Linked DNA regions of Homo sapiens: all the other regions are linked to region 2. The links come from fine-mapping of genetic effects on gene expression. A gene starts in region 2. Each other region holds a variant in brackets. All regions are shown on one strand. Distances are between the middles of the regions. Region 1 has its middle 46 kb from the start of ARL5A. Region 2 holds the start of ARL5A (ARF like GTPase 5A). Region 3 overlaps CACNB4 (calcium voltage-gated channel auxiliary subunit beta 4).

What was found. PIP is the estimated chance that this variant, and not a neighbour inherited with it, causes the effect.
Region 1: its variant is the best candidate, but not a certain one, in a credible set for the expression of ARL5A in blood mononuclear cells (TOPMed, PIP 0.64).
Region 3: its variant is the best candidate, but not a certain one, in a credible set for the expression of ARL5A in lung (TOPMed, PIP 0.55).

The regions. Positions count from the first base shown.
Region 1 is chr2:151,777,111-151,787,822 of GRCh38, forward strand. No RefSeq gene overlaps it. Among named protein-coding and RNA genes, the nearest start is that of ARL5A, 46 kb to the right of the region's middle. RefSeq lists an enhancer at 5,545-5,839. The variant C/T (reference allele first, on the strand shown) is at 4,874.
Region 2 is chr2:151,822,306-151,833,017 of GRCh38, forward strand. ARL5A (ARF like GTPase 5A) reads right to left here and starts at 6,116. Exons shown (of 6, transcript NM_012097.4): 1 at 5,826-6,116. The coding sequence starts at 5,871. It overlaps CACNB4 (calcium voltage-gated channel auxiliary subunit beta 4), which reads right to left. Exons shown (of 14, transcript NM_000726.5): 14 at 10,466-10,712. RefSeq lists enhancers at 1,518-1,577, 6,392-6,441 and silencers at 5,732-5,781, 5,832-6,341.
Region 3 is chr2:152,053,454-152,064,165 of GRCh38, forward strand. The region is part of intron 2 of CACNB4 (calcium voltage-gated channel auxiliary subunit beta 4); the gene reads right to left. Among named protein-coding and RNA genes, the nearest start is that of CACNB4, 40 kb to the right of the region's middle. RefSeq lists an enhancer at 276-777. The variant T/G (reference allele first, on the strand shown) is at 6,835.

The DNA.
Region 1 (10,712 bases), 45 kb before region 2:
TGACCTCCTGGGCTCAAGTGATCCTCCCACCTCAGCCTCCCAAGTAGCTGGGACTACAGACACATACCACCATACCTGGCTAATTTTAAAATTTTTTTGTAGCAACAAGATTTTTCACTTTGTTGCCCGGGCTGGTCTTGAACTCCTGAGCTCAAGTGCTCCTTCCACCTCAGCCTCCCAAAGTGCTGGGATTACAAGAGTGAGCCACTGTGCCCAGCCTGGTTTGCACTTTGAGATGCTCTGTTGGCAGACTCCTCAGCAAAGCCTGCTGCCTGCTGTGTCTTCCCACTGGTGCAACAAGCCTGTTGCTCTTTGGGTGTCCTCTGCTCTCCTGTCTCTTTGGGGCTCTGGGAGACACAGGCTTTTGCATATTCACCTCACTCCTGGTCCAGTGTCCTTACTCATTCATCATGGGCACTTTAGGTCTTTCTGCTGTTCCAGATGTTAACAGGTGAATGAAGTCTCATAGTCACCGTATCAACCAGTGGGTACGGCAGCTTTCAGAATAAAACTTTCTTTCTCCAATTCTTTGCATTGTGCTATTATCTATCAACTGGCATATATTGAACACTAGGAGGCTCCAGACCTGCCCTGTCCAGTACAGGAGTCATTAGCTACTTTAGGCTATGGAGCACTTGCAAGGCACCTAATACAAATTGAGATGTGCTCTGAATGTAAAATACACGATGGATTTTGAAGACTTAACACAAAAAAAGTAAAATATCTCAATAATTTTTATACTGATTACATGTTGCAGTGGTAACATGTTAGATATATTGGGTAATTAAAATGTATTAGTAAAATTAACTTTATTGTTTCTTATTACGTTTGAATGTAACTACTCAACAATTTAAAATTACATATGTGGCACACATCTTACTTCTATTGGACAGCACTGCCCAGGACATGTTTATTCAAATGTCTGTTGAGTGCCTATGAGGGTTTAGTCACTAAGCCAAGTGCTAGCTGCATGATGGGGCTTATGAAGAAAATCAAAGCCTTTGCCTTCATGAAGACAGATAGTAATGTAAACACCCTGTGGGTTCTTGCCGGCTTCCCAGATAGAGCCAATTTATCAAGGCAGGGGAATTGCAATAGAGAAAGAGTTTACCACTGCACTCCAGCCTGGGTGAAAGAGTGAGACTGTCTCAAAAAAAAAAAAAAAAAAGAGAGAGTTCATTAGAGTGAATAGGCAACCTACAGAATGGGAGAAAACTTTTGCAACCTATCCATCTGACAAAGGGCTAATATCCAGAATCTACAAAGAACTTAAACAAATTTACAAGAAAAAAACAACCCCATCAAAAAGTGGGCAAAGGAAATAGACACTTCTCAAAAGAAGACATTTATGCAGCCAACAAACATATGAAAAAAAGCTCATCATCACTGGTTATTAGAGAAATGCAAATCAAAACCACAGTGAGATACTATCTCATGCCAGTTAGAATGGCGATCATTAAAAAGTCAGGAAACAACAGATGCTGGAGAGAATGCGGAGAAACAGGAACACTTTTACACTGTTGGTGGGAGTGTAAAATAATTCAACCATTGTGGAAGACAGTGTGGTGATTCTTCAAGGATCTAGAACTAGAAATGCCACTTGACTCAGCAATCCGATTACTGGGTATATACCCAACCCAGTGGATTATAAATCATTCTACTATAAAGACATGCACACGTATGTTTATTGCGGCACTATCCACAATAGCAAAGACTTGGAACCAACCCAAATGCCCATCAATGATAGAGTGGATAAAGAAAATGTGGCACATATACACCATGGAATACTATGCAGCCATAAAAAAGGATGAGTTCATGTCCTTTGCAGGGACATGGATGAAGCTGTAAACCATCATTCTCAGCAAACTAACACAGGAACAGAAAACCAAACACCACATGTTCTCACTCGTAAGTGGGAGTTGAACAATGAGAGCACATGGACACAGGGAGGGGAACACCACACATGGGGGCCTGTTGGGGGGTGGGGGGCTGGGGAGGGATAGCATTAAGAGAAATACCTAATGTAGGTGACGGGTTGATGGGTGTAGCAAACCACCATGGCACATGTATACCTATGTAACAAACCTGCATGTTCTGCACATGTACCCCAGAATCTAAAGTATAAAAAATAAAAAAAAACCTAAAAGATTCAAAGAAACTAGTTAAAAGGCAATAGCAGTCATCCAAGCCAAGTGTTGATAACTTATACTAAGGTGGTAGCAGTAGACATGCTCAGTGGGGAAGTATGTTTCACCTGTCCCCAGTCTTCCAGTTATCTGGGCTCAAATAAATACAAAGACAAGAAAATGTAAATAAATTGATAACGAGGAGAAGCTCAGCTCTCTCTCTACTGTTTCCAAGGAGCTCCAGAGAGGAACTTACATTTTCCCGGTGATCTCGCTCACCCTCGCTCCTGTTCCTTGCTCTAAACTCTGTACTTGATTCTCTGTTCAGCTTGCTCTGAATGTGACCTTCCCGTGCTAATACAAGTCTAGGCGGTGCTAATACAAGTCTAAGGAAGTAGTAAAGCTTCACTGAAGACTAGGGAAAAGGTAACAAAAAACCAGAGTGTGAAAGAGAAAACAACCTTTACTTCATCATCCAACAAGCCTGTTGGCAAAGATCACTTTGGCCATTTCCTCCTCTCTCCTTTTCCTCCAGTTCCAGGGTCCAAACTCCTTTTCTTGAGTTTCAAAGAGAAAATGTAAAAGTCTCCCACCTTCTTACTCAGAGCCAGTTAGTGTTACTGCCCTCTTTCTCTTGACCTTACATCCAGACGCAGCTGGGGCTTTGCCTTCTAGAAGTACATGGCCCCAAAACAGAAGGATACATTTTCCTTGGTCGAGTCCCTTTAACATGAAATCATCTGAAATTAGGTTTTTAAAGAGAATTTTCTTTTTCCCACATTGGTATGACCTCATTTAATCCTCATATGAAGTGGATGTTGTGAAGCAGAAAAGAGAAGCTAAGAGAGGTGGCAGAGTAAGTTGCTCCAAATTATATAACAAGATCAAGAGAAGATTCAAAACTGAATCCAGCTGAAACCCTGGACCCATCACCACCAGCCTACACCACCTCCCCTGCAGAGATGGGCCCAAGGGCAAGGTCATTATTATCTCCTCACAGCACCACCACCTACTCCCTCTCCCTTTTGGAAAGCCACTTTTCACCTTGATGACTAGAAACTCAATAATAAATTTTGCAGAAATTGTATAACCAAAACCGCATTCTAATTTAGTGCCATTTTTCCTCTTAAGGTTGTTATTGTTGTTTTCTCTAAAGGACAATTATCTGTGTGCCCAGGAGCTGGTAAGTCACTCAAATTTATTCTATTTCAATAAAAAGCAATAGTCGGCCGGGCGCGGTGGCTCACGCCTGTAATCCCAGCACTTTGGGAGGCCGAGGCGGGCGGATCACGAGGTCAGGAGATCGAGACCACGGTGAAACCCCGTCTCTACTAAAAATACAAAAAATTAGCCGGGCGCAGTGGCGGGCGCCTGTAGTCCCAGCTACTCGGGAGGCTGAGGCAGGAGAATGGCGTGAACCCGGAAGGCGGAGCTTGCAGTGAGCGGAGATCGCGCCACAGCACTCCCGCCTGGGCGACAGAACGAGACTCCGTCTCAAAAAAAAAAAAAAAAAAAAAAGCAATAGTCACCTATGGAGATCCCAGGTGAAATTGTAACAGAATTCTTTGAATTCTCCTAAACAAGGAAGAGACGGTCAGAGTTCAGAACACTTCCTCTAAGTAGGCAAGGATATACTAGCATCTTAGTGGGAAATAGAAAACAAAAAATTGCAAAGGCTGTGGTGGTGGTGATAATGGTAAGAAGAAGAAAGAAGAAGGAGAAGGAGAAGGAAGAAAGGGAGGAGGAGAGGGAGAGGTAGGGGGAGGGGGAGGGGGAGGAATCATCAACATTTATTGTCACTTGGTGCAAGCAGGAGGAGGAAAAGTCATCAACATTTACTGTCATTTGGTGCCATGCACTGCACCAAGCACTTTACATTCATTGACTCATTTAACTCTCACATCAACTCTGTGAAGTTGTTCCTACTGGTATCCCCATTTTACTGCTGAAGAAACTGAGTCTCAGACAAATTTACCAACTTGCCCAAGATCACAGAGTCTAGATGTTTTATTTTTAAAACATATGAACTTCTGGAGCATTTTAGTAAGATAACCTGGACAGAAACATGTGAAGACTGGTCCTCAGAGCCTCTTCCAGATAACAGAACATCTAGAAAAGACAACATCAATTGGGTGTTACTGAGAATTGGTGTATGAACCAGATGCCACTGCCACACCTACTGATAAATTAATTAGGGCAGCAATTAATTTAGTTTTGGTTGCACCGATTTAATCATTGAATATTTATTCAAGTCATCACAGTGGAATGAATTTGGTTGATGCATTCATTTACTAATTTATTAATTCATTGATTAGCTGACACATGCCAGCTACTGCAAGGCACTGAGGATACAAAGATTCATGAGACTGTACCTGTCTTCAGGTCGTTCAGAGCCTAGAACGGGACCATAGGCTTGGCAGGGTGGGATTTTTCCTGTCTCTGCCCTCTCAAGCTGGCACCTTCAAGGCTAAGGTAATAGAAGGAGTCCTTGTGTATTGCCACAGAAATGCATTCTTAGCATCAGAGAAAGGATTGTGTCAGCAAGTGTGTAACCTTCCCCATTTGTTTTTCAGACTTTGTATTCTGAGGTCAGACCTATACGGTGCTTCCTTTTTCCTTTCTTTTCCGTTTTTAGGAGCAGAAGCTACCTTTCCTGCGTATCCAACAGGAGACCTGTGTGGAGCATAAAATGGAGACAGATGCATGTGGCTGAGACACAGCAGACAGCGAACCTTTGCAGGGGATGG[C/T]AGTGAGGATCCAGGAGAAGGGAAGGACCATCCAGGAGGGGAGAGAGGCCTTGAGAGAACTACACTTGGTGCCAGGTATTGGGGGGTGGCCAGGAAGGTGGTCCTGGGGAAGGAGCTGTACCCACAAATGTTTTACATCCAGCAAAATAACATTGTCCATCTTATTAAATAAATGTTGCTTCTTTGAATTGTATTGAATTTGTGGTGTTTAAAATTTAATTTGTAAACGTATTTTGGTTTAAACGTATCAGTAATAAATCTGATTTATAAATAAAAATATACTTGACTTTATATATACAGATAGTCTTCCCTTATCTGTAGTTTTGCTGACCGACAGACAACTGAAGTCCAAAAATATTATACACAATAAGACATTGAGAGAGACACCACATTCACAGAACTTTTATTGTAGTAAATTGTTATAATTGTTCTATTTTTTATTATTCATTTCTTACTGTGCTTAATTTATAAATTAAATTTCATCATAGGTATGTATGTCTAGGAGAAGCTTAATATATATGGGTTCCATACTATCCATGGTTTCAGGTGTCCACTGGGGATCTTGGAACATAACCCTTGCAGGTAAGGGTGCACTACTCAATGTACTAGGATGTGGAAATTTAGTAAAAACAACTCTGGTATTCATAGACTTATTTGAATAATTTTTCCATTTTCAAAATTACAGTATAATTAATATATAGTAAAACGTACCCTCTAGTGTACAGTTCTGTGAATTTCGACAAACATGTATAGTCGTGTGGCCACCGCTGTAATCAAAATGTCAAACGATTTCATCATCCCAAAAATGTCCCCCATGCTACTTTGTGGTTAACCCTGCCTATCACCCTGGCTCCTGGCAACCACTGATATGTTTTCTGTCTCTATAGTTTTGCCTTCATAAGAATGTCACATTAATGGACTTGCACATTATGTAGCCTTCTAAAAAACGAAAAAATCTTTGTTGAGGTATAACTGACATCTAGTAAATTGCACATATTTAAGGATACAATTTGGTGGTAAGTTTTGACATATGTAAACACTCATGAAACCATCATCACTATAAAGATAATGAATATATCCATCATTCCAGAATGTTTCCTCACACCCCTTTGTAATCCCAGCTCCCATATTTCCCTGGTCTCCCATTCCCACTAATCTGCTTTCTGTGACTATAGATTACTTGGCATTTTCTAGAATTTCATATAAATGGGATTATTCGGTATGCAATCTTTTTTGTCTGGCTTACATTCAGCATAATAATTTTGATATTCATGTGTCTTGTGTATCAATAGTTTGTTCCTTCTTACGGCAGAGTAGTATTCCATTGTAGGGACATAACACAATTTGTTTGTACTTGCATGTGCTAAGGGACATTTTTTTTTTTTTTTTTTTCAGTTGTGGACTATTGTAAATAAAGCTCCTATGAACATTTGTGTACAAGTCTTTGATTGGGCTTTTTTCACTTGGGTAAATACCTAGTAATGAAATGGCTGGGTCATACAATAGGCACAGGTTGAACTTTTTGAGAAGCTACTTATTATTTCCCTAATAACTAATGCTGTTGAGCATCTTCTCATGTGCTTATTTGTCCTCTGTATATCTACTTTGTTGAAATGTCTGTTCAGATCTTTTGCCTTTTTTTTTTCTTTGAGACAGGGTCTCTGTCTGTCACCCAGGTTGGAGTGTGGTGGCACGATCTTGGCTCACTGCAACCTCCCCTTCCTGGGCTCAAGCAGTCCTCCCACCTTAGCCTCCTGAGTAGCTGGGGCCACAGGTGCATGCCACCATACCCGGCTAATTTTTTCTATTTTTTGTACAGACAGGGTTTTGCCATGTTGCCCAGGCTGGTCTCAAACTCCTGGACTCAAGCAATCTGCCCACCTCATCCTCCCAAAGTGTTGGGATTACAGGTGTGAGCCACAGCACACTGTTCTATTTTTTTAATTGAGTTATTTTGTGATTTTTAGATATAAGTTCTTTATAACATATGTGATTTGCAAGTATTATTTGTTCCAATGTGTGGCTTATCTTTTGATTTTCTTATACACATCTTTCAAAGAGCAGAAGTAAAATAGCTCCCCCTCATCCAGGAGGAATACATTTCAAGACTCCCAGTGGATATCTGGAATGGTGGATAGTACTGAACCTTACATACTATGTTTTTTTCCTATATATAATACCTACGATCAAGTTTAATTTATAAATTAGGCATAGTAAGAGATTAACAATAATAAATCAGAACAATTATAATAAAATGCTTCTATAAGTTATGTGAATGTGGTCTCTCTCTATCTCAAACATCTTACTGTACGTAACAATTTTGGACCATGGTATTCACTGCGGGTAATGAAACCACAGATAGTGAACTACAGATAAGAGGAGACTACCATACTTAATTTTTATGAAGTTTAATTTTTTTTCTTCTTTTATGGCTCAAATTTTGGTTATACAGCTAACAAATCTTTGCCTAACCCAAAGTCACAAAGATTTTCTTCCGTGTTATCTTAAGAACTTTTATAGTTTCAAGTTTTACAGTTAGGTCTATATTCCATTTTTAGTTATTTTTGTATAGGTTACAAGATACAGAACAAGGTTCTTTAAAAATAGTTTGGGTGAACTCAAGTTTCAGAAACATTATAATGTTTTCTCAAGGCGCTTGGTTGAAAAGGGAAGGGAAGAATCAGGTAGTATCAAGAAGGAGGTATAACATTAAGAGAGTCTAGGATTTTATTTTTTTTATACAGCGGAAAAGTTGGAAATGTCTTAGATCACATAGACCACTCGAGGGGAAGAGATTGAAAAACCAATAAAAAAGATTCTCCTCATTACAATGGAAGCTCAACTTTGACCATCTTAATTATGATGACTACATTCCCAGCATCAGCACAGTGGCATGCATATAGTAGGTGTTCCATAAAATGTTATGGAAGGAGAAAAACAAGGCATGAATGCAAAAGGAAATGGAACTAAGAGTATAGTTATGGAAGGAGACTTGAATCAGCCTCAGTGACTAGAGAGAACAAACTCCCAGAAAATGAGCAAACGGAGATAAAATGGTAGAGAAGTCCAGGAGTTCACACCGCATAGCCTTTATCATCTTTTAAATTATGAAGCAAGGCTGTCTGCTGGGGATGGGGAAAGGAATATGGAGGAGACCTGAGGAGTCCGCAGCAATACCCCATGCGGGCAGGGAGGAAGAGCATCCACTGTGTGCTGAGTTAGGTGTTTCAGGAGACACTGTGCAAGATGGGATTCCCTACCATTCAGCCTTAAAAAAGAAGGAAATGCTGTCATTTGCAACAACACAGATGAACCTGGAGAACACTACACTAAGTGAAATCAGCCAGGCACATAAAGAGGACTACCACATGATCTCACTCATATGTGAACACTCTATTTAAGGGTGTTGCTACTTTGCAGGGCCAAGATCAGTGGTACCAAAATTTGAGAAATGGGAAAGAAGGAGGCAGGAGGTGGAGGGTAGGGAAGATGAATTCACTTTCTGACACACACATTACCTTTCAGACATCATCTGAACAATCACACAGGCAGCATGAATCTGTAGGTTACTAGGGTCTAAATAAACACTGAAAGGTCAAGGATGGAGAGGGAAGTTTGGTAAAACCCTGAGTGACTTGGGGTAGCAACAAGTGGGGGCATGTGATAAGGAATGTCCCACAATACAGAGGTGAAAGAGCAGTAGGCACAAATAAGAAAAGAAGAAAACAAACCTACCCTAATAGAAGAACCAAGCTTGCTACTGACATCTAATAAAAAGTGGAGATGCCCTGGCACTGACCTATTTCTTACAGGCCTTTAGGCTATTTCAAAAGTATGTATGTCAGGAATTTGATTACTAGAAGCAGAAATACTTACCTGTGATATATTTCTAACACCACATAAGCTATTTGTTCATAAATCTGTCCCACCAGATTAAGCAACTGGCAACATACATGGTTTCATTCTCTACATCCCTGACTGCTAGCAGTTTCTAAGTCAGAGTAGCTACTCAAATGTCTACTGACTTTTATTTTGCTATAAATAAAATTTTGCTATTATACATAAGAAGCCAAATGACACAATTTTGGACTCCCTAAGGGGGATGGGGTGAGGAGATACATACAGCATCAAAAGAATCATTTGTAGCTAAAATATTGTCCTCAGAAAACTGGACATGCACTTACTGATTTTTGCCCTGTTGATTGGTCCATTGAACGCTGTATAGTTCACTTGCGTTTCCATTGAGCCAAGGAGGGTAGGAACTCTTGACTGCTTTCAGGCCACTGGGGCTCCTGCATTTATATGCTTGACAGTCTTACACTGCGAGGAAACAGACAACTAACAAATGCCTCTGAAACTCATTTCTTATATGTCTGAAATGAAACGAGCAACGTAGGTTTAAATTCCAGACACCCAAATAATTTTTTTACCCCAAAAGATCTATCTCCAAGGAACTTCTCCAAAAAGTAAAGTAAAATTTTTAACAGTGTCACCTTTTTCTGAATTCCCAATATGGGCTATGCAAGCTGGTATAGCTACACTTTGAAGAAACAAATATATTGAAAAGAAAAAAAAGCACAAGGTTTCCTTTGACTTTAATGAGTAGACTTTCAGCTCATTTCCTTTAAAATGCTGCCCCTGAATTGCAAATTACTTCATGGTCTTTATTTAGTGAGCTCTCTTCCTAGACTGACAGAGCCAGCTGCAGAATTGTACTGTCTATGGAAATAATATCATCAGCACTTTGTCGCTGAATAAGACCACAATCATTACATTTGGCTTCTTTTCACACAGGAGGAACTGAATATATGCTTGTTTACAGCAACAATATTCAGAAAGTTATCACTTTTGTACTCTATCAGTTGGTAACTTAAAATCAAAGGAAAATTTAGCATGAAATACCTGAATCCCTTTTTAAGGTCATTTTAATTTTAGTACATTACTAATACTTAAACTATTAGCTTTTTTTCTAGGATTCAAAGAGCATATTAATTAATTTTGATATTCAGTCAGAGTAGAAAGTATTAAGAAATCAATTTATATTCATTATACATATTTATATTTCTTATCTTTTTCTGTTCCAACTTAGAAATAAAATTTTTGAGAACCACATTCACTGTGAAAAATGTTGTATAAATTTATGTGACATATTTTATTCAAGTGAAGTTCTTATCTAGCAAATATTAGAAAAGTAGCCCATTAAACTATAAATAATTTTAATTTGGCTCTCACCAAGTATGAAAATAAGCAAGTAATTTTATAATTTGAAAAAAGATTTTACATTTTCTTTACAAAATAACCACCACTCTCTCTGACACTATTTAATAAAAGCTTTATTAAAATGAAGCCAAAACATTAACACCATTTATATGTACAAGACCATTAAACATTTTTTCTATCTTTAATAAATGTTCTTCCATTTTTGTCATTTATTACTTTCCTAATTTGAAAAATTGATTAATGTGAAGAAACATTACTAAATTAAACAAATGTAAAGTTTAAATTTAATTATTAAATGGTTGAGTTTAAAGTTGACAGCTAGTTTAAGGTAGAAGACCTTCATAATCCAATTACTTTTACTTGGTTTCAGAACTACCCCTAGGCAAATTCTCCTAAAATAGAAACTACATGCAAGAAAAACACAAGCGATGTTCATCATTTAAGATAAACTTTAAAAGTTAAATTTTTAAAATTAATTTTAATAAAAATTGGTTTGTTACCAGTTAGCTATATAACCTAGAGCCAATCAATCTCTGTGTGTTTTCTCTTTTGTTAAATGTAGAACTTAATTCTTGCTCTATATACCTCTCAGGATTGTGAGAATAAAGATGATACATGT
Region 2 (10,712 bases):
CCGGCCACCAATGACCATTTTTAATAGCTTCCTAAATCTAAGACATAGCATGTGGGTCACAATGAGAACTATAAAATTAAGACCAAACTGTGCAATGGGCTCAAAGACAAACGTGTCATCTCAATAATAGGGTCAGATTAGTCACAAAGTTTTTAATAGTAGATCAATTTCCTCTGAACATCCTTACTCTCACCACCACAGCCTGTTCCTTTCATTAGCAAGATGGAAAAGCATCTATACAAAATGTAAATTTGTAGCCAAAAAGTGCTATAATGCACTTCGAAATAAAGACTTCATAGAATCCCAATATGCCTACTACAAGAATGTTATTGTGGACAAATGCAATAAAACTTTCAGCCATTCCAACTCTTTGATGCACAAGAATCATCAGAAGTTTACTGCTTAGTATGATTTTTCTTTTAGACTATGTCACAGCATTCCTGTATTTACTCAAATAAGCCACAACAACTGCACTGTTCTAATGCTTTGATGGAACTGTGAGTTACCAATTAGGCTTTAACATACCAATCAATACTTTACTGTTTTGTCATGAAAATTGCTTCTTGTTTCCCTTTTCCTTCATTTCCTTTTGACACAGGCAGTCTACCAGTTCCATTCATTGCCAGTTTTTAAAAGTTAATATATATTCCCCCAACTCATCAGTCAATAAATTAAGCATAATAATAATTGTTATTGTAGAGAATTACTATCTCTGTGAATCATACAACATCAGAAAACACAAAAACACCAGGGCAAATAAATGGAGAGTCCTCTTGATTCATCATTTTTACCTCATATCTGAACTATCACTAAGCCCTATTAATTCTATGTCTCTCAGAGCAAAAAATTCCATTTGTCATATTCACTATAGTTCTCTTAGTCCATAGGACAGCTCCTGGAATAAAGCATGAGCTTAATATTTTTCATGAATAAATAAATCAGATCTGGAAAATATAAAGGTTAGGAGAGAGATATCTGCTTAAGTCGTTTTGTATTAAAAGTTCAATTTTTAAAACTTAAAAGTCTTAACAATAAAAAGAAAGTTTGAAAATAAACTTGCTATTACAGTAATGGTAAATTAAGTTTCAGGGGAATAACCAAATTTTCTTTTGCACTATGAGGTTGCTGAAAAAAAAAAGCAATGATTACACATGGCAAAATTAGAGATCCAATCAGGAGGCAGAAATCACACAATAATTTGAACTTGGAAAGTTCAACATCAAAAAAATATTACAGGGGACTGGAGTAATGAGAGATTGGCTAAAAGATTATGGGAATGTCAAATTTAAGAAGCACTCACTATCCCTAGGGTTGAGATAAAGGTCCTCCCCCTCCCTCCAGACTTAAGATGCAGATCTCGTTGGAGGGCACAGATAGTGGCTCACTGAATGGCAGAGAAGTAGCTGTGGTGAGGTGCCAGTGGAACCTGCCCAAAAATCCTCCCTCTTCGGTGCTGAGGAAAACTGTTTATTGAGAGGTATTTCACTGGAGACCTTCCATTATGAAACCAACTAAGACGGGTACTAGGGGAAGCTGTTGGCTGCTGCTGACCACTATGCAGTACAAGAGCCAGGCCTTGGAGACGGTGTTCATGCTACAAGCAGAGCCCGTCAAGAAAGCACACTATAACTAAGTACAAACACCCTTTCCTCCTACAATGCCTCTCCAGTGCAGCCTACTGACAAAACTTAACATTTTGCCCAGTGGCAAAAGAAAAACGTTTAAAGGACCTAGCTCCACTTCCACAGAGCATGCAAAAAGGGTTTACAAATGGTCTCTGACTTGTGATGTTGTAAAAGCAACACACATTCAGTAGAAACCATACTTCGAGTACCCATGCAAAGATTCTGTTTTTCACTTTCAGTACAGTATTCAATAAATTACACGAGATATTCAACCTTTATTATAAAATAGGCTTTGGGTTAGATTTTGCCAACCTGTAAACTAACATAAATGTTCTGAGCACGTATAAAGCAAGCTAGGCTAAAGCCATGGTTTTCAGTAAGTCTGGCATATTAAACTCATTTTTTACTTACTGTATTTTCAATTATCTATCTATCACAAATTATCAACTATCACAAATTGAGGAGCATCTGTATTAGAAGCTAAGACACAGTCTACCCCTTGGCTACTCAGCTTCCATATGTACTCTTCTCTACACATTTAAACTCCCTAATAATAATAATAATAATAATAATAACAACAATAATAAGCCAGAAACAGAGGTGGCTTCCTCAGCATCAGGTTCCTGAAGCACAGGCAGCTTCTCCTGCACCCATTCATACTTATAATTCCTTTTCTAGCAACCAACCAAGAGAGCAATACAAGGCTATTAATGAGGAAATTCCACAACTTCTTTTATAGTTCACATCAGTCAGTTCTTTTTATCTGAGTCCTTCTTATACAAAGTCCTTCTTACACGAAGTTGTGTGCAAATGTGCGTGCGTGCATGTGTGTGTAGAACTAACTCTGGCACTAGATAATCTTGTTAAAATCCAGGTGTGTGTGCGTAGGAGAAATAACTCCGGCACTACGTAATCGTGGTTAAAATCCAGGTCTATCACTTTTACCTATAGTGCTTAAAGCAAGTTACCTGTTTCCGTACCCCTGTAAAATAAGGGGAATAATATCTACCTTGTAGGGTTGTTGTAAAGAGTAAATCAACTAAGTGAATATTAAATCAAACAACCTGTGTGAACCTTGCACAAGTGTTAACCACTATTATTTTACTTGTAGAGACAAAGTGAGTTAATTTCCTGTCTCCCAACACTACATGAAAGCTCCATAAAGGCAGTGGAATTTGTCTGTTTTGTTCCCTTATCCCACCATGTAGAACACTTCCTGGACTAAATAGGTGTTAAAATATTTGTTTATTGAGAACAAGTAAACCACTGATCACAAGCTCTTCTATAAAAAAAAGTTACTAATGGCAACTTTTCGAAGTTCTAAAGACAACTTAGAGATTAGCAACTGAAAAAGTTAATGGGGGGAGGAGGAGGGAGGGAAAAATGATGTCAATCTCTTCTTTAAGAGATTCCTTCAGGGTTTTAACTTGCCTGGCTCTGGCATATACCAGTTGCATGGCCTGGGGAAAAAAAATCATTCCACTTAAGCCTCAGTTTTCCCTTTTCAGGGGAAATAACTACTTCAAAAGATTGTTAAAACATAAAATAAAATAAAATAAAATGATTTAAATGACAGCATCTAGGATAAAGTTTGTACTCTACTGAATCTCAGTATCAACTAAATGTGACCTCTGGTTTTTCTAGTTCGAGCGGTATACAAATAGCTTTCACTGTGCACTCAATCTGAGCTTTAACTGAAAAAGCTGTTCTCGAGGGGTTTCAGAAACAGGAGATACTGCATAGTTTAAGTTTCATCAGATGGCAAATTCTGTAATCTCCCGAAACATACTTTCCAAGAGTTTCTATGAAAAGAAAGTAAGATTGCATTCTGAATCCACTGAAGGTAAAACAAGAGCATCCAACACATATCTAACTTATATATGTCCTATACAGAAAAAAAAAAAAACAACCCTGCTGGGCACCATGGCTCAGGCCTGTAATCCCAGCACTTTGGGAGCCCAAGGCGGGTGGATCACGAAGTCAAGAGATGGTGACCATTCTGGCCAACGTGGTGAAACCCCATCTCTACAAAAAATACAAAAATTAGCTGGGTGTGGTGGCACGCACCTGTAGTCCAGCCACTCGGGAGGCTGAGGCAGGAGAATCGCTTGAACCCAGGAGGCACAGGTTGCAGTGGGCCAAGATCACACCACTGCACTCCAGCCTGGTGACAGAGCAAGACTCCATCTCAAAAAAACAAAAACAAAAACAAAACCCAACAAATATCTGGCATTAGATTAAATGGTGGATATTCGGAAAAGTGACCCTATTGATAAGACAGCCACACTGTTTAGCAGAAAATAAATAATTTATTCACACTTTCACAATATTCATATCTAATTTTCTAGAACTTAACTTCATTAATTTCTCTATTAATTTCCGCCAAACTGCCATAAATGTCCCGTCAAAAATTACCACAAAATACAGGTTATAAAAACACTACTATTAGCAATTTGTAGTGATACCAGAGCACACACCCTTATTATTTACTACTCCAAGGAGCTGTTGGCAAAGTTCTCATTTATTCTTAACTTACAGAAACAAATAATTTTATCATTGACTCAAAATAGAAAGTGGTGATAACTCTTTTTCTGGCAGCACTAGAGCTCAATTCACAGTCTTGCTAAACCTCACAGCAGATGAAACACTAGCTTTGCTAAAAATAATACAAAATGATGGATGTTAAAACTAGAATAGATCTTATCTACTATAAGTACCATCAGTCTTACAGCAATGTACGTTTTAATATTTGCAATGTAGAAATAAAGTTTACAAGATTTGGAAGCTCCACAGATCCCTGGTGTTCTAGGTGAGAAAACCTAGACCAGAAAACCTGAGAGTTCAAGTGACTGCTTCCCACTCTCCTGCTCCCAACACTAACAGCCAGTCCAGTCAGAGACAGTGCTGATTAGAACTGATTTTCTCTACTTTATGAAAAATCCTCTTATCAGAAAAATTGATACTGCCCTTTCTTTCGGTATCACGTGACCTACACATCTGTGTGTGTGTGTGTGTGCGTAAAAGATACATTAGGGATCACAAGTTCTAGTTCTGCTTGCTTCCCCTAAGCTTCTTAAAAGAGCAGCTAGATCATGAAGGAGGAGGTGGTAGTAGTAGGTGTACATAATAGATGCCACCATTCACGTAAGTCTTTATTGGAAAACTGGGACGTGACACCATCAGCTTACACAACAGAAAAACACAAACTAAGTTCCTGACAGCGGAATGATGAACCACCCAACTTGAGTTAAAAAGAAACAAAAGTACACCACTGTATCTTAATAAGTATCCAGTCTTTGGGTTAAAATTGTATTCTCTTTCCCCAGTTTTAGTCATTTTGTAACAAATTTTAACAAGCCTGATAGGTATTTCATGGCCATGTCTGAAGTTGGCTGAACTTAAGCATCCCTATATAACACACTTTACACTTAGTAACTTGCTAGTTACCTATGGTTAACAAATGTTTCATATGGTATGTTTTTAAAACTTTCAGTGAAACACTTTAACATTTTTAACCCAGCAAAACAAACAAAAACTGTGTCTAATAACCCACACGAGTAGAAAAATGACCTTAAGCTTAACCTTAAACACAGATATAATAAGTAAAACAAATGGAGAGAAGTCCATCTCTATTCAGGAGGCAGAAGAACCCCCCCTGCCCCCAACACACACAAAGACGGGTGGCAGTGGAGGGCAGGCTCATAAACCAGAGGTGTAATGGACAAGTCGAGCGATTCCTCCCGTTTTCCGCATTCTGCAACCCTCGGTCGCTCAGTGGTGCGGTTAGGGCAGCAATCTATAACCTTCATTCCAGAAGACCCCAGCACTTCTATGTGGTGTCCAAACACAACTGGTGAGCAAAGAAAGGGCTGAAAGACAGGCCAGGCCGTGCTACTCAGGGACGTCGGACCTAGGGCAAGAAACCTTTACCACTCTCATTCGAAATCGGAGCAATGGGTCTATTACGGAAAAGACTTCTTAGGAAGGTCTCCTAAGACAAAGGGCTGCGAGTCAGGAACCATCCCCAAGCTCGGGAGCCGGGACCGAACCGTCCCGGGCCCGTATCCGCGCAGCCTGCACCCCGCGCTGAGCTGGCGCCCGACCGAGCCGCCCACATTCCGAAGTATTCGGAGACCCCCACCTAGCCGGCCCGAGCTGACCCTCTCCCCAACCCGTACGCCCGCGGACCGAGCTCCTCACCCTGGTGATTGAACAGTCTCCATATTCTAGTGAAGAGAATTCCCATTCTCGGGCAGCGGACCCCCCCCCTCCAGACACCCGGGCCGCCTGGCTTCCCCCGGCTCAGGCTGAGGGGGAGGAGAGAGACGCGCTGGAGCCTCCGCCTCTGCTGCTGCTCCCGCGCTGGTCGCGGGCCCGCTTCCAGGGAACCGGAGGGAGGCCGAAGCCCAGGCCGCCCTGCCGCGCGCAAGGCCCCGCCGCTGCCGCCGCGGCACTCGCCTGGCTCGCGGACATCGCCGCCGCGTTGTCTGCGACGAGCCTCGCGGGCCACCGTCCTCCCCCAGCTCCTCTCGGGCGGCTGCGGTGGCGACGACCACGCGGGCGGGGGAAGTGAAGGGGCGGGCCTGGAGGGACGTGAGTGCGCAGGCGCGCGGCCAGAGGGGCGGAGCGTAGGAAAGGGCGCCCGCCCTGTCCTCGCTTATTTGCATAACCAAGACTGCGGAAGGCGCAGGACTTTACCCTGGGACTGAGGCTGTGAAGACCGCAAGTTGGGGCAGATGGCTTCCGACTGCTTGCTGTTGCGTCCCCGAGTATTTATATTTCCCTCGAATCTTCTCCACTGCGCCATAATGTAAACATATAATTGAGTACCCCATGTCCATCCCCAACCCTTCACATACACTACACTTAAAGTTCCACGTCATGACTCTTTAAGACATTGTGTCCCCTGTGGGTCTTTGAGGGAAAAGTCTGCTGCCCTCTGACACTCAGCTGAAGTCAGTGGCCTTACCTAGATAGTCACCTTAAAGCCATTTTTGCACTTCAGGGCTCTTTTCTCTCCAATCTCTTAACTCTCACGTCAGTATTGCCCAAAACAACGATTTTGATCAAGTCACTACCCTGTTTAAAAACCTTTAGTGGCCACCAAAGCTCCATCCCTTTCTGTTCTCGTTAACCTTAGTAAAAAGGAAAATAAAGAAAAATTGGGAGACTTGTAGGAGCCATTTGAACTGCTTTGCACTCCCATCCCCAACAGCTGAATGAAATTAAGCAAAATCAGCAATAAACCGCACCTTCCCAACTCACTTCTCCTAACTACCCAGTATTTTACCTCAAAATATAGAAAAGTAATTTCGTTGACTTCTTTTGGGGCTTTATGGTTAAAAAGCCAAAGTTTAGAGGAGCCATACATGAAGGGAAGGAAAATCATAGTAATCCATATTAATTTATGTATTATCATGTCTGGATTTACTTAATATTCTGTACACTGTTTAGAAGAACAATGTAGTTTGTATAACCAATTTGCATTAACTCTGTAATATTTCCATTCTCGCACACCGTAGGTAATGCTTTGGTAGCTCTAAGACTTTTTCAGACTCCCACACAGATGTCAACTTATGAAATGGATGTCATATACACATTATGTGATGGCGGAGCTTCATATTTTACAATCTACCCAAGGAAATGGTCTCCCAGGTTATTTTCCGAGTGAAGAAAGAAGAGAGAGAGAGAGACAGAGACAGAGAGTTTAAAGACCAATTTATCTATGATTACAGAGAAATGCAAAATGTCATTGGAGAGACTTCTGACTTCAGGCATGAGAGAGTAGGATGGTTTGAATATATCCTCCTACCATTAGCAAATAGAAAACTGCACAAAGTACAGGCAACGACATTTCAGATATTGAAAAACACATCACAGTACTGTGATTCTTTGCAAAAGAGAAAGGAACAGGTGGAGTCTTACCATTTCCTGGACTTTATCCCTAAAAGCAATTCCCAGTCAACTACGGAGGAAGTGGGAACCCAAATGAGAATCTGGAAACCTCTTAGAACTGAAGACGCATATCAGCATTCCCAGAGATCAAGGTGACTAGAATTTGTGAAGCAGAGTAACTGGAAGGAGGGAGCTACACAGAGAAAAGCTCTGGAAACCTGTTAAGGGGCCATTGAGTCTTTGGCTGCATATCAATTTGTGCTCGTGCAGTATGAACCCCCAAGAGGCTGGTCAGTCACAATTCCTGAGGAAAAATAAGTACCAGGAAACTGTAATGCAAATGATTCCCAGAGATTACAACGGGTCAGGAATCATTTGAGTTCCCTTCAGCCAGAGTGAAGAGAACTGAATATATAGGACAGGGGTGTCCAATCTTTTAGCTTCCCTGGGCCACACTGGAAGAAGAATTGTCTTGGGCCACACATAACATAAGCTAACACTATTGATAGCTGATGAGCTAAAAAATAAGTAAAATCACAAAAATACTCATAATGTTTTAAGAAAGTTTACGAATTTGTATTGGGCCACATTCAAAACCATCCTAGGGCCGGGTGCAGTGGCTCACACCTGTAATCCCAACACTGGGAGGCCAAGGTGGGCAGATCTCTAGAGGCCATGAGTTCGAGACCAGCCTGGCCAACACAATGAAACCCCGTCTCTACCAAAAATTACAAAAATTTGCCGGGCATGGTGGCGCAAACCTGTAATCCCAGCTACTCTGGAGGCTGAGGCAGGAGAATTGCTTGAACCCAGGAGGTGGAGATTGCACTGAGCCAAGATCAAACCGCTGCACTCCAGCCTGGGTGACAGAACAAGACTATCTCAAAAATAAATAAATAAATTAATTAATTAATTAATTTTTAAAAAGCCATCCTGGGCTGCATGCAGCCCACAGGCTGTGGGTTGGATAAACTCGATATAGTTGAGTGGACACCACCAGAGACCTTAGAAGAGGAGCTAACTGGCCTAAGAATAAGCCCTACACAAGACCAATCCTAAAGGAGCTTAAAACCAAACCTTGAAAGGGCCAAACTAATTCACAATTGCCTGCCAAAACAAGTATAACATTCTTTAAAGGAATATGAGATCAAGTCATCAACAATGTAAACTTTACATTGTCCTAAATCCAATAAAAAATCACTAGACGTGCAAGGAAACAGGAAAATGTGATCCATAACCAAAAGCAAATCACTCTACAGAAATACCCAGGCATGGGGACATTAAGTGATTGCCCCAAGTTCATGGCTAGTTATTGCTGGATCTGGGCTTTGAACCCAGACAAAGGTTAGATCCACACTCAAACCACTGTGCTAATCTGCATGTTGTATCAAAGTACAAATGAGATGTTTCTCTCCCTCGTACATTTTATTATTGGAAATGTGCTGATGACAGGAGAAGTAGCTTCAGGCATATGGCTGGTAGATGAGTTTCAGATTGTTGGCTGAAATACTTTGATAGTTGAGACAGCCTTATATAATACCTCTCCAATAACTGAGGTACTATTCATTCAGTCAACATTTATTGTATTCCAGGCATTGTTTTGTATGCTTCAGATGATTACCTAGCTTAAAAGTAACATATCAGTACTTTTTTTTTTCTTTTTCTTTTTTTTTGGTGGGGGGATGGACTTTCGCTCGTTGCCCAGGCTGGAGTACATTGGTGCATCTCGGCTCACGGCAACCTCCGCCTCCCGGGTTCAAGCGATTCTCCTGCCTCAGCCTCCCGAGTAGCTGGGATTACAGGCATGCGCCCTCACGCCCGGCTAATTTTGTATTTTTAGTAGAGACGGGGTTTCTCCATGTTGGTCAGGCTGGTCTCAAACTCCCGACCTCAGGTGATCCGCCCGCCTAGGCCTCCCAAAGTGCTGGGATTACAGGCAGGAGCCACCACGCCCGGCTATGAGTACGTATTTTTAAAGAAAAATTCTTGGCTGCGCGCAGTGGCTCACGCCTGTAATCCCAGTACTTTGGGAGGCCGAGGCGGGCGGATCACCTGAGGTCGGGAGTTTGAGACCAGCCTGACCAACATGGAGAAACCCCGTCTCTACTAAAAATACAAAATTAGCCGGGCGTGATGGCGCATGCCTGTAATCCCAGCTACTTGGGAGGCTGAGGCAGGAGAATCGCTTGAACCCGGGAGGTGGAGCTTGCCGTGAGCCGAGATCGCACCAGTGCACTCCAGCCTGGGCAACAAGAGTGAAACTCCATCTCAGAAAGAAAAAAAAAAGAAAAATTCTTTTGAGAGAGAAGTTTCAGTGAACTTTGGTTTCCTCATTTGTATTTGTATCTCATAATCCATGCCCGGCCTACTTTCCTGGGTGATCAGATGAATTAAATGTGATAATTGTGAAATAACTTGACTCTAATAAATCACTGTATAATCCTAATGCAGTGATAAAAATCAACATAGTCCATATTTCTTTGGAATCTCCTATACAGTGAAATGACAAAAAAGTCAAATTCCAATCAAGTCTTAACATAGACAATTGACCCCAAATACATACTATGGAATTCTTACAGGTACAAGATAGCTTTGGAAATGTCTGATAACTGCAATATTAATCATTTTGGAGTGGATGACTTGCGAACAATATAATACTTCATCTAGTATATTTTTCTATATCCAATCCTATTTTGCACATGTATTCGAATGTATTTTATTTCACATGTGTGTGTATTTAACTTATAAACCCTTTCCTAATACAGTACTTATTTTGTGATCACTCACAGCACCTGGCAGAGTATTCAGAAAGTAGTCATTTGATTGAATCCCTTTTTAGGATAAATGTTTAGACTTTTTCTTTTTTTCATAAAAGAGTACCTATTGATTTCCAGTATTTCTTCAATATATTTCTAGAATAATATAAAGGAGAGGTATAACGCTGGTTTCAGTGTTTTTTTCATTTATTATATAAAAGAAAAAAAGTAATGCAGTTGTTTTGTACACATTTAAATTCCATAAAACAAATCCATAGAAATGAGGATACTCTATGCATGCACTCTGCATTTTCTTTGTTAATGTTTTTATTCACAAAAATAACACCACGTTTTTTTCTTTAAAGCCACTAAAGCAGAGGGAGAACAAAACATGCAGCACTGTACACATTTGCATAGTATATTTTACCCAGCATGC
Region 3 (10,712 bases), 230 kb after region 2:
TTAAAATATTCTTTATAATTAACCAGTAAATGTAAGTGTTTCCCTGGGTTCTGTGATCTGCTCTAGGAATTTTTTTTTTTTTTTTTTTGAAACAAGGTCTTGCTCTGCCACCCAGGCTAGAGTGCAGTGGTGTGATCACAGCTCACTGCAGCCTCGACCTCCTGAGCTCAAGAGATCCTCCCACCTGAACCTCCAGACTAGGTGGCACTACAGGCACATGCTACCATGCTCAGCTAATTTTTCAATTTTTTGTAGAGATAGAGTCTCACTATGTTGCCCAGGCCTGTCTCCAACTCCTGGGCTCAAGCAATCCTCCTGCCTCACCCTCCCAAAAGTGCTGGGATTACAGGCATGAGCCATCACACCTGGCCCTGCTCCAGCAAATTAACTGAACCCAAAATGAGGGTCATGGGAATCCCTCAGTTAGAAGTATAGGTAACAATCTATTACTTGCGATTGGCATCTGAAACTGGGGGAGAGGTGCTGACTGAGCCCTCAACATGTGGGATCTGATCCTGTCTTCAAGTAGCTAGTGTCAGAATTGAGTAAAATTATAGGATACCCAGTTTGCACCTGCTGGAGGATTGTTTGGTGTGTGGAAAAAACCCTCTACACTTAAGAAGTATTGTGTTGGCCGGGCGCGGTGGCTCACGCCTGTAATCCCAGCACTTTGGGAGGCCGAGACGGGCAGATCACGAGGTCAGGAGATCGAGACCATCCTGGCTAACGCGGTGAAACCCCGTCTCTACTAAAAATACAAAAATTAGCCGGGCGTGGTGGCGCGCGCCTGTAGTCCCAGCTACACGGGAGGCTGAGGCAGGAGAATGGCGTGAACCCGGGAGGCGGAGCTTGCAGTGAGCCGAGATCGCGCCACTGCACTCCAGCCTGGGCGACAAAGCAAAACTCCGTCTCAAAAAAAAAAAAAAAAAAAAAAAATAGTATTGTGTTGAGTGACTGTATGACAGTAGAGGAGAAAAATTGTTTATTTTTTCTTCAGACCATATTTTACTTATCCACTCATCAACTGATGACCATTTGGGTTGTTTCCTTTTTTGTCTATTACGAATAATGCTGCAAAAAACATTCTTGTATAGGCTTTTGTGTGGACACATGCCTTCATTTATCCTGCATATGTACCTAGTAGTGGACTTGCTGGGTCATAAGATAACTCTATACTTAACCTTTTCAGAAACTGCCAAACTTTTCCATGGTAGTTGCACCATTTTACATTCCTACCAGCAGTGTATGAGGATTCCAATTTCCCCATATTCTTGCCAAAAATTATCTGTCTTTTTTATTATAGCCATCCTAGTGGGTGTAAAGTGGCATGTCATTGTGGTTTTGAATTGCATTTCCTCCTGGTGACTAATGATACGGAGCACTTTTTTTTATGTGATTATTGGCCACTGGTATGTCTTCTTTGGACAAATGTCTATTCCTATCCATTGCCTATTTTTGAAACGTCTTTTCTACTGAGTCTAAAAGTTCTTTATATATCCTAGACACAAGTCCCTTATCAGATATAAGATTTGCAAATATTTCCTCCCAGTCTGTGGGTTGTCTTCTTTTTTGTTTTAAGACAGAGCCTTGCTCTGTCACCCAAGCTGCAATGCAGTGGCACAATCTCAGCTCACCGTAACCGCTGCCTCCCAGGTTCAAGGGATTCTCATGTCTCAGCCTCCCGAGTAGCTGGGACTATAGGCACATGCCACCACACTTGGCTAATTTTTGTATTTTTAGTAGAGACAGGGTTTCACCATGTTGGCCAGGCTGGTCTGGAACTCCTGACCTCAAGTGATCGGCCTGCCTTGGCCTCCCAAAATGCTGGGATTACAGGTGTGAGCCACCATGCCTGGTCTTCTTCTTACTTTCTTGATAGTAACCTTTGAAGCACAGAAGTTTTTAATTTTGATGAGCTCCAAATTATTCATTTTTTTCTTTGGTTACTTGTGCTTCAGTGCCATATCTTAAGATCAACTTTAAACAAGCTTTTTTCAGCTTGTATTGTCAGTTGTAGGCATTGATTCTTTTCCACTTTAGCAGCAGGGCCTCTCCTTACCCTGACTCACTCACTTATGGAGACATGGCAGACCACACAGCCCACAGGCAATGCAAGACATGAATGGATTTGCACACCCCACTGAGTCCTGCTGTGCTCTGATTATCACTTTGATTATTACTGAACACTGCAAAGTCTAGATAAGGCTTTTAAGCTTCTGGAGCCTTTCAGAATTGTTAATTAATCCTTAAAATAGCTTTGAAGGCTGATTTCCCCCCTGATTCTAAGAAGATAATTAAGAAGCTATTGCCAAGACAAATAACTTTTTTCGGAGGAACTCTAACCTCTGAAATTTTCAAACTTTGACTACTAAGGAGGAAGGAGACAGAAACTGGGCAAAGTGTGACAAAGAGCAGTCAAGGCACAGCAAGTGAGTGGCGACCGAAGCTCAGTATGTTTATATCCTCACTCGCCTGTTACTATCATCACCTCCTCACATGGTTTCTACTCACCACCACGCCCCTGTGACTACCCACCACACTGAAGCCAGAAGGACCATATTTAAAAATCTGGTTATACCAATTGGTTCATCAATACCCGCAAGATTTTTTAGAAATTAGATATTTTCGGCTGGGCACGGTGGCTCACCCCTGTAATCCCAGCACTTTAGGAGGCCAAGGCAGATGGATCACGAAGTCAGGAGATCAAGACCATCCTGGCTAACACGGTGAAACCCCGTCTCTACTAAAAATACAAAAAATTAGCCAGGCATGGTGGCAGGGCCTGTAGTCCCAGCTACTTGGGAGGCTGAGGCAGGAGAATGGCATGAACCCAGGAGGCAGAGCTTGCAGTGAGCCAAGATCACGCCACTGCACTCCAGCCTGGGTGACAGAGTGAGACTCTGTCTCAAAAAAAAAAAAAAAGAAATTAGAAATTTTCAGAAATATCGTGTCCCCAAATGCTTTGTCAGTTTATCCGCTACAATTATCTCCCATGTTTCACACACTCAAGCCTCATCAACTTTCTCCAGGTTTACTAAAACCACTGCACTACTAGAAACTCCTTTGCTCTGGAAGGTACCTTCCTTCTGCTGCTCACACGGGAAGACCTAGACATGCCACCCCCTAGTGACGTCTTCCCAGCTTTGCTAGGCAATTAATAGACTCTACCTGTGTGTGATGCCCTTGGCATTTTCTTCATAGTTCTATTATTATTATAACCCAGATGGCAACTGGAATCATGCTGCTCTTTATGCTCCAGTTACCACTGCTTGCACCACAACTCCACATCCTGTGGAAAATTTAGTACCCATTCAGGATGTCTGAAATCCCTAGACAATAAGGCGAGAATGGTGATTATCCTATGGATACTGTTACCTCCAACTTTCTGCCCTCATTGACTTCTTGTTCTCTGCTATGTGTCTTGTGACTATCCCTTACTTTTACAAACATAGACCTCAACTCCTTATGCTGATTTCCACTGAAAGCTCTGATAGCAAGCCTCTAAGATGGCCCCCAAAGATCTCCACCTCCCAGTATTCCTAGTCATGTACAATCCTCTTCTCATGAGTAACCAACAGAATACGGCAACATTGAGGGATGTCACTCCCCTAATCAATACAAAAGATAGTGATTGTCATCTTGTTATTAATAGCAGACTCTCTCTCACTGGCTGGAGGTCCATGTATTAATAGTAAGGAACTTAGGGTGGTCTCCTGTCAACAGCCAGCAAGGAACCGAGACCCTCAGTCCAACACACCTTAAGGAACTGAATGCTGTCAAAATCCATGCAAATGAGCTGAGAAGCAGATCCTTCCCACAAATCCTCAGATGAGACCCCAGGTCTAGCTGACACCCTCATTGCAGCCTTGTGACTACAGGTGATACAGAAGACACAGCTGAGCCATGCTTAGATTCCTAAGCCACAAAAATTAGGAGAAAACAAATGTGTGTTATTCATGCAACAATAATTAAGGAATACAAAAACCTAAAAATAAACAAACTGCCCCTTCACTTGTGACTTCTGTGTATACAGAAGACTTTATTCATGGGCTAGGGAGACAGGGAGGCTTTACATTACAAAAATCCTAAAAGCACAAAACTGAATACCGGACATTTAGTCTGTAAGAATCCTTTGGCCACTAGATTGTATTACTCAGTCTCTCCCTCTCACTCCCCTTCTATTCCATGACACCCATTTCAGGTTTTAAAATATGTATATACATACACACATGCACACACAGAGGCATATGCACACGCACAGATCTTCAGCAGAGACTTTGAATTGAACTGACCCCTGAAAAGTCCTAATGAGGTACACTGACAAAGTCCCATTCTTCTCTCTAGTCTCTGCCTATGGCAGGCAGAGGGAAGGAAACTTTTATTTTTCCAAGGACATACTATAATACAACTTACCATGATGTTTGATATGGTTTGGCTGTGTCCCCACCCAAATCTCATCTTGAATCGTAATCTGCATAATCCCCATGTGTCATGGGAGGGAGCTGGTAGGAGGTGATTAGATCATGGAGGCAGTTTCCTTCATGCTATTCTCATGATAATAAGTGAGTTCTCACAAGGTCTGATGGTTTTATAAAGGGCTCTTCCCACTTTGCTCCTCACTCTTCTCTCTCCTGCCACCATGTAAAAAAGGTCCTCACTTTCCCTTTGCCTTCCTCCATGACTGTAAAGTTTCCTGAGGCCTCCTCAGCCATGCAGAACTGTGAGTCAATTAAACCTCTATCCTTTATAAATTACCCAGTCTCAAGTATTTCTTCACAGCAGTATGAAAACAGACTAATACAGTAAATTGGTACCGCAAAGAGGGGGGTACTGCTATAAAGACACCCAAAAATGTGGAAACAACTTTGGAACTGGGTAATGGGCAGAGGTTGGAATAGTTTGGAGGGCTCCGAAGAAGACAGGAAGATGTGGAAAGATTTGAAACTTCCTAGAAACTTGTTGAATGGTTTTGACAAAATGCTGATAGTGATATGGGCAGTGAAGTATAGGCTGAGGTGGTCTCACATGAAGATGAAGAATTTATTGGGAGCTAGAGCAAAGGTAACTCTTGCTGTGCTTTAGCAAAGAGACTGGCAGCATTTTGCCCCTGTCCTAGAGATCTGTGGAACTTTGAACTTGAGAGAGATAATCTGAAATTGGAACTTATGTTTAAAAGGGAAGCAGAGCATAAAAGTTTGGAAAATTTGCAGCCTGATGATGTGGTAGAGAAGAAAAACCCATTTTCTGGGGAGAAATTCAAGCTGGATGCAGAAATTGGCATAAGTAACCAGGAGTCCAGTGTTAATATCAACAGAATGTGGAAAATGTCTCCAGGGTATGTCAGAGACCTTCACAGTGGCCCCTCCCATCACAGGCCCAGAGGCCTAGGAGGGAAAAATGGTTTCATGGGCTGTGCCCAGGATCCCCCCTGCTGTATGTAGCCTCTTGGTGCCTTTTGTCCCAGTCACTCTAGCTGTGGCTAAAAGGGGCGAAGGTACAGCTTGGGCCATTGCTTCAGAGGGTGCAAGTCCCAAGCCTTGGCAGCTTCCATGTGGTGTTTGTCCTGTGGCTGTGCAGAAGACAGGAACTGAGGTTTGGAAACTTCTGCCTGGATTTCAGAGGATGTGTGGAAATGCCTGGATGTCCAGGCACTTGTGTGCTGCAGGAGTGGAGCCCTCATGGAGAACCTCTGCTAGGACAGTGCAGAAGGGAAATGTGGGGTTGGAGTCCCCACACAGAGTCCCCCACTGGGGCACTGCATAGTGGAGCTGTGAGAAGAGGACCACCATTCTCCAGACCCCAGAATGACAGATCCACTGACAGCCTGCACTGTGTGTGTGCCTGGAAAAGCTGCAGACCCTCAACGGCAGCCGTGAAAGCAGCCAGGGTGGGAGCAGGGGCTGTACCCTGCAAAGCCACAGGGGTAGAGCTGCCCAAGACTGTGGGAGCCCACCTCTTGCAATAATATCACCTGGATGTGAAACATGAAGTCAAAGGAGATCATTTTGGAGCTTCAAGATTTAATGACTGCCCTGTGGGATTTTGGATTTGCATGGGGCTTGTAGCCCCTGTTTTGGCCAATTTCTCCCATTTGAAATGGCAACATTTATCCAACGCCTGTATCCACATTGTATCTTGGAAGGAACTAACTTGCTTTTGATTTTACAGGCTCATAGGCAGAAGGGACTTGCATTGTCTCAGATGAGACTGGACTTTGGACTTTTGGGTTAATACTGAAATGAATTAAGGCTTTGGGGGACTGTTGGAAAGGCATGATTTGTGTTTTGCAATGTGAGGACATGAAATTTGGGAGAGGCCAGGGGCAGAATGATATGGTTTGGCTCTGTGTCTCTACCCAAATCTCATTTTGAATTGCAATCCACACATGTCTAGGGAGTGACAAGGAGGGAGGTGATTGGATCTTGGGGGTGGTTCCCCCATGCTGTTCTCATGATAGTGAGTGAGTTCTCACCAGATCTGATGGTTTTATAAGGGGCTCTTCCCTCTTCACTCCTCACTCTTTTCTCTCCTGCCACCATGTGAAGAAGGTCCTCACTTCCCCTTCACCTTCTGCCATGTTTGTAAGTTTCCTGAGGCCTCCCAAGACATGTGGAACTGTGAGTCAATTAAACCTCTTTCCTTTATAAATTACCCAGTCTTGGGTGTTTCTTTATAGCAGTGTGAAAATGGACTAATACAATGTTATATAATTAATTGCTTACACATCTATCTCCCACACTAGACTGTTTTTCAAGGAAAATGACTTGAGTTTTATTCATCTTTATAGCCTTTGGTGTGTAGTAAAAAGTTAATCAACAGTTGGGATTCAGTAAA[T/G]GTTTGCTGAATGTTGATTCATTTCATACCATTACATTAAAAGATTTAAAATTATTAATGCATTATTAATTCACAGGAGAACCACTGCTGAGCTACAAGTAAAACTATGCTATAATGAGGTCTTCAGATTTTTTAAATTAAGCATACCTCCTTTGAATAGGTTCAAGGAAAACTACTGCTCTGATAAATCCAATGTTATAGCATGCTATGAGGCTCAAAATGTATCAAGGACTGTAAAAAAGCATACAATCTACATTATTAGCTATTCCACAACTCATGTCAAGGGGTGAGGGAGCAGTGTACATTAGATTTTCAACTTAGAAAACAACTGCCCAGGAACTCCAACTCTATACATTTATCATAAGAAAATAAAACATCAGCATCAAGAAAATATAAGATATTGGAAAACCAAATCTCCAGCAACAGGGGCAAGTTAAATACATCACGGTACATCTACACATCAGATTAACAGTGATGAACTAGATCTTATTAACTGGAAAAGATGTCTACAATACAGTCTTATATGAAAATATCAAATAACAAAACAATACATAAATTTTTGTAAAAAAAAGCATTGTCTATATCTATGTGTGCATATACACAGAAAATATGAAAAGATGTAACAAAATGTTAATATATAGCAGTTGCCATATTATAGGTGATCTTTATACTTTTCTGTGTTTCACAGATGTTTTGCAATGAACATATATTTCTTTTTAATCAAAAATATTTAAAACTGGCTGGGCAAGATAGTTCATGCCTATAATCCCAACGTTTTGGGAGGCTCAGGTGGGAGGATCTCTTGAGGCCAGGAGTTTGAGACCAGCCTGGTCAACATAAGGAGATCCCGTCTCCACAAAAAATTTTTGTCAATTAGCTAGGCATGGTGGCACATGCCTGTAGCCTCCCAGCTACTCGGGAGGCTAGGGTAGAAGGATTGCTTGAGCCCAGGGGTTGGAGGTTGCTGTGAGCTATGATCGTGCCACTGAACTCCAGCTTGGGTGACAGAGCAAGATCCTGTCTCTAAAAAAAAATTAATTTAGTTTTTAAAAATATCTGAAATTTTTAAAATAGAGAAAAGAGGTAATTAGTATTGTCCAAATTTAGCAAATGATTACTAATTGAATATTTACTATAGTAACATCTAGACTGCAAAAATAACTCATGTAATCTATCACATTTTACTTTTAAAAACAGCTTTAAGTAAGTAGGCTTATTTGAGCCTCCCAAAACTTTGTGAAGTAAAAAGAGCATATTACATCAATTTCATAGATCTTAAATGACTTGCTCAAGTCATAAACCATGTAAATTCAAAAATCCAAATCTAGCCACTGTGATTTCTGCTTCTCAAAGCAAAAAAAAAAAAAAGTTATGAATGTTTCCAGATATGACTGTCATCTCAAACAGTAGAATAAAGAATGATCATGTAAATAATGATTAGGGGCCAGGTGCAGTGGCTCACACCTGTAATCCCAGCACTCTGGGAGGCCGAGGCAGGCGGATCACCAGAGATCAGGAGTCCAAGACCAGTCTGGCCAACATGGTGAAACCCTGTCGCTACTAAAAATACAAAAATTAGCTGGGTGTGGTGGCACACACCTGTAATCCCAGCTACTCGGGAGGCTGAGAGAGGAGAATCACATGAACCCAGGAGGCAGAGGTTGCAGTGAGCGGAGATCGCGCCACTGTACTCCAGCCTGGGTGACAGAGTGAGATTCCATCTCAAAATAATAATAATAATAATAATAATAATAATAATAATGATTAGGAATGCTTTCTGGATTTCCTGATACCCTGAGTAATTCTTTTTCAGCAAATACTTAAGATTACTAGATAAATTCACTTTCTATGTACCTTATTGTGAAAATTTCCCCTAATTTTTGGTTAACTACTCATTAATTCAGTGAATAAACACATGCTAATACATGGAATTCCTAATGCATTACAACAGATAGAAAAAAAAACTAGCTAGAGAGTTTAGGAAAAACAGTATTCAGGCAGCAAAGACTGTGAACATCCCCTCAGCCAGAGGCCAGTCCAGTCACACCACTGAGTTGACACCGCCATTGAGTTGAGACCAACACTTCACTGACCACTCTTCTAAATCATTTTATTTCATTTTTGATCCAGTCTCTCTATGTACTGTGTCAGTTGCATAAGGATAGTTGCTTTAAACCACCAGAACAAAGAAATTTCCAGAAAAACAGCACTTCTGACAGATACATGCATTCCTAAAGCAAGCCAAGGGGGTACATACACAGAATGGGCAAGATCTCTGTGGCTAAGCCAAACTGGAAACCACCTAGACCTAATCACCTCCCCATCTCAATAGTGGAAGCAGCTCTTCACGGAGCACTGAACGTGGAACGGCTCTCTTTCCACCAGCTTTGGAGCAGCTCCTGGCCTCTCCCATCATGGCAAGACAGAGCCTTTGCCAATGACAGACGGGAAGCATTTGGCAGAGGACACGGGAGGAGAGGGAACTTCCTTAAAGTCTGGCTTTGCACAGACCTGTGTAATGCCAAATTAGGAAGGAAACAGAGCAGAAGACAAGACATGAGGTGTGAACTGTGAGCAATTTTAGACAGAAAGGCTAGCACTTCTCTGAAATTAGCATATCAACTTTTGGACAAGAAAATGCCCCTTGGGACTCAGATTAGCTTTAGGGTGTGGGCCAGACATCCACGCAGAGGAGGATCAGCAGATGAGTCAGAAGCATCCAGATGGACTTGGACAGAGACAATTCCCTCAGCTGCTCCATACTAAGGAATTCACTAACCTCTTAGGGAGAAGGGATTAGATTCCATTCCAGACATATCGCAATGTCACTGGGAGTTTATTGCACATATATTGGTAATCAGTTAACTGTTCAGTGAACTGTACATAGATGATTCTACAGTGTAAATTTAGTTATTCTCAACCAGTTTAGATAGCCTCTAACAGTTCCAAATCTGTTCAAAATCATTACAAAATACCCAATTATAGGAATTGGTAAATTAAAGATAACAGCCAACACATACTAAATGCTTACTATGTGCCAAGCAATGTTATTAGCCTGTTATTTTACATCTATTCATTTATTAGCTCCATTATGCAGATAAAGAAACTGAGGCAGAGAGTGATTAATGTGCCCAGGGTCCCACAGTTAGAAAACAGCAGAGTCAGAACCTGAACCCAGGCAATCTTGCTCTAGAGGCTGTTTGGAAAATCACACTGCACCAAGCCAGCTCCAGCCTGTGCATGCAATCAAGCTCCTGGGGTTCTCAGCAAATAAACCAGGTAAACAGCACTCCTCACAGATTGAGGTTTGAAGAGTTTTCTGCATATTACATAATTTCAAGAAGCCTGTGTTAATATTAACACTTGCAAAATTTAGACCAAAGCAAACAACTTAAATTCTACAGAAGACACATAAGTAATATAAGTGAGTGAAGCACACTGGCTGTGAGGCGGGGGGCAGGGTTAATGAGGACCAAGAGGGCAGATGCCTACCTAAAAGAGGCAGCCACCCATCAGCTCCGAATGTCTTCCTAGAAGAATGAAAAGCCAGTTTTGCCATTCCTCACAATTTTTCCAGAAAAGTTGAAAATTCAGACTCGTGTACAAAATCCCCCAACTTTCAAATCTTGGCAGTCATTCAAAATTATTTTTTTCTGAATGATGAGCCAAACAAAACCTATCTGCCAACACAGGCTGACACCCCTGTTCTAAATTCATTGTAATTCTCAGCAGACAATGTAATAACAGTCTTGTGAATGATAGAGTACTGGAAATTAACAGAAGTTCTGAAATGTTAGGAAGACAGTCTTCAATATATAACTACACACAGAGGTTAGTTTAGGTCTAGCTATGTCTAACGGTGAGTACATGGGTCCAAA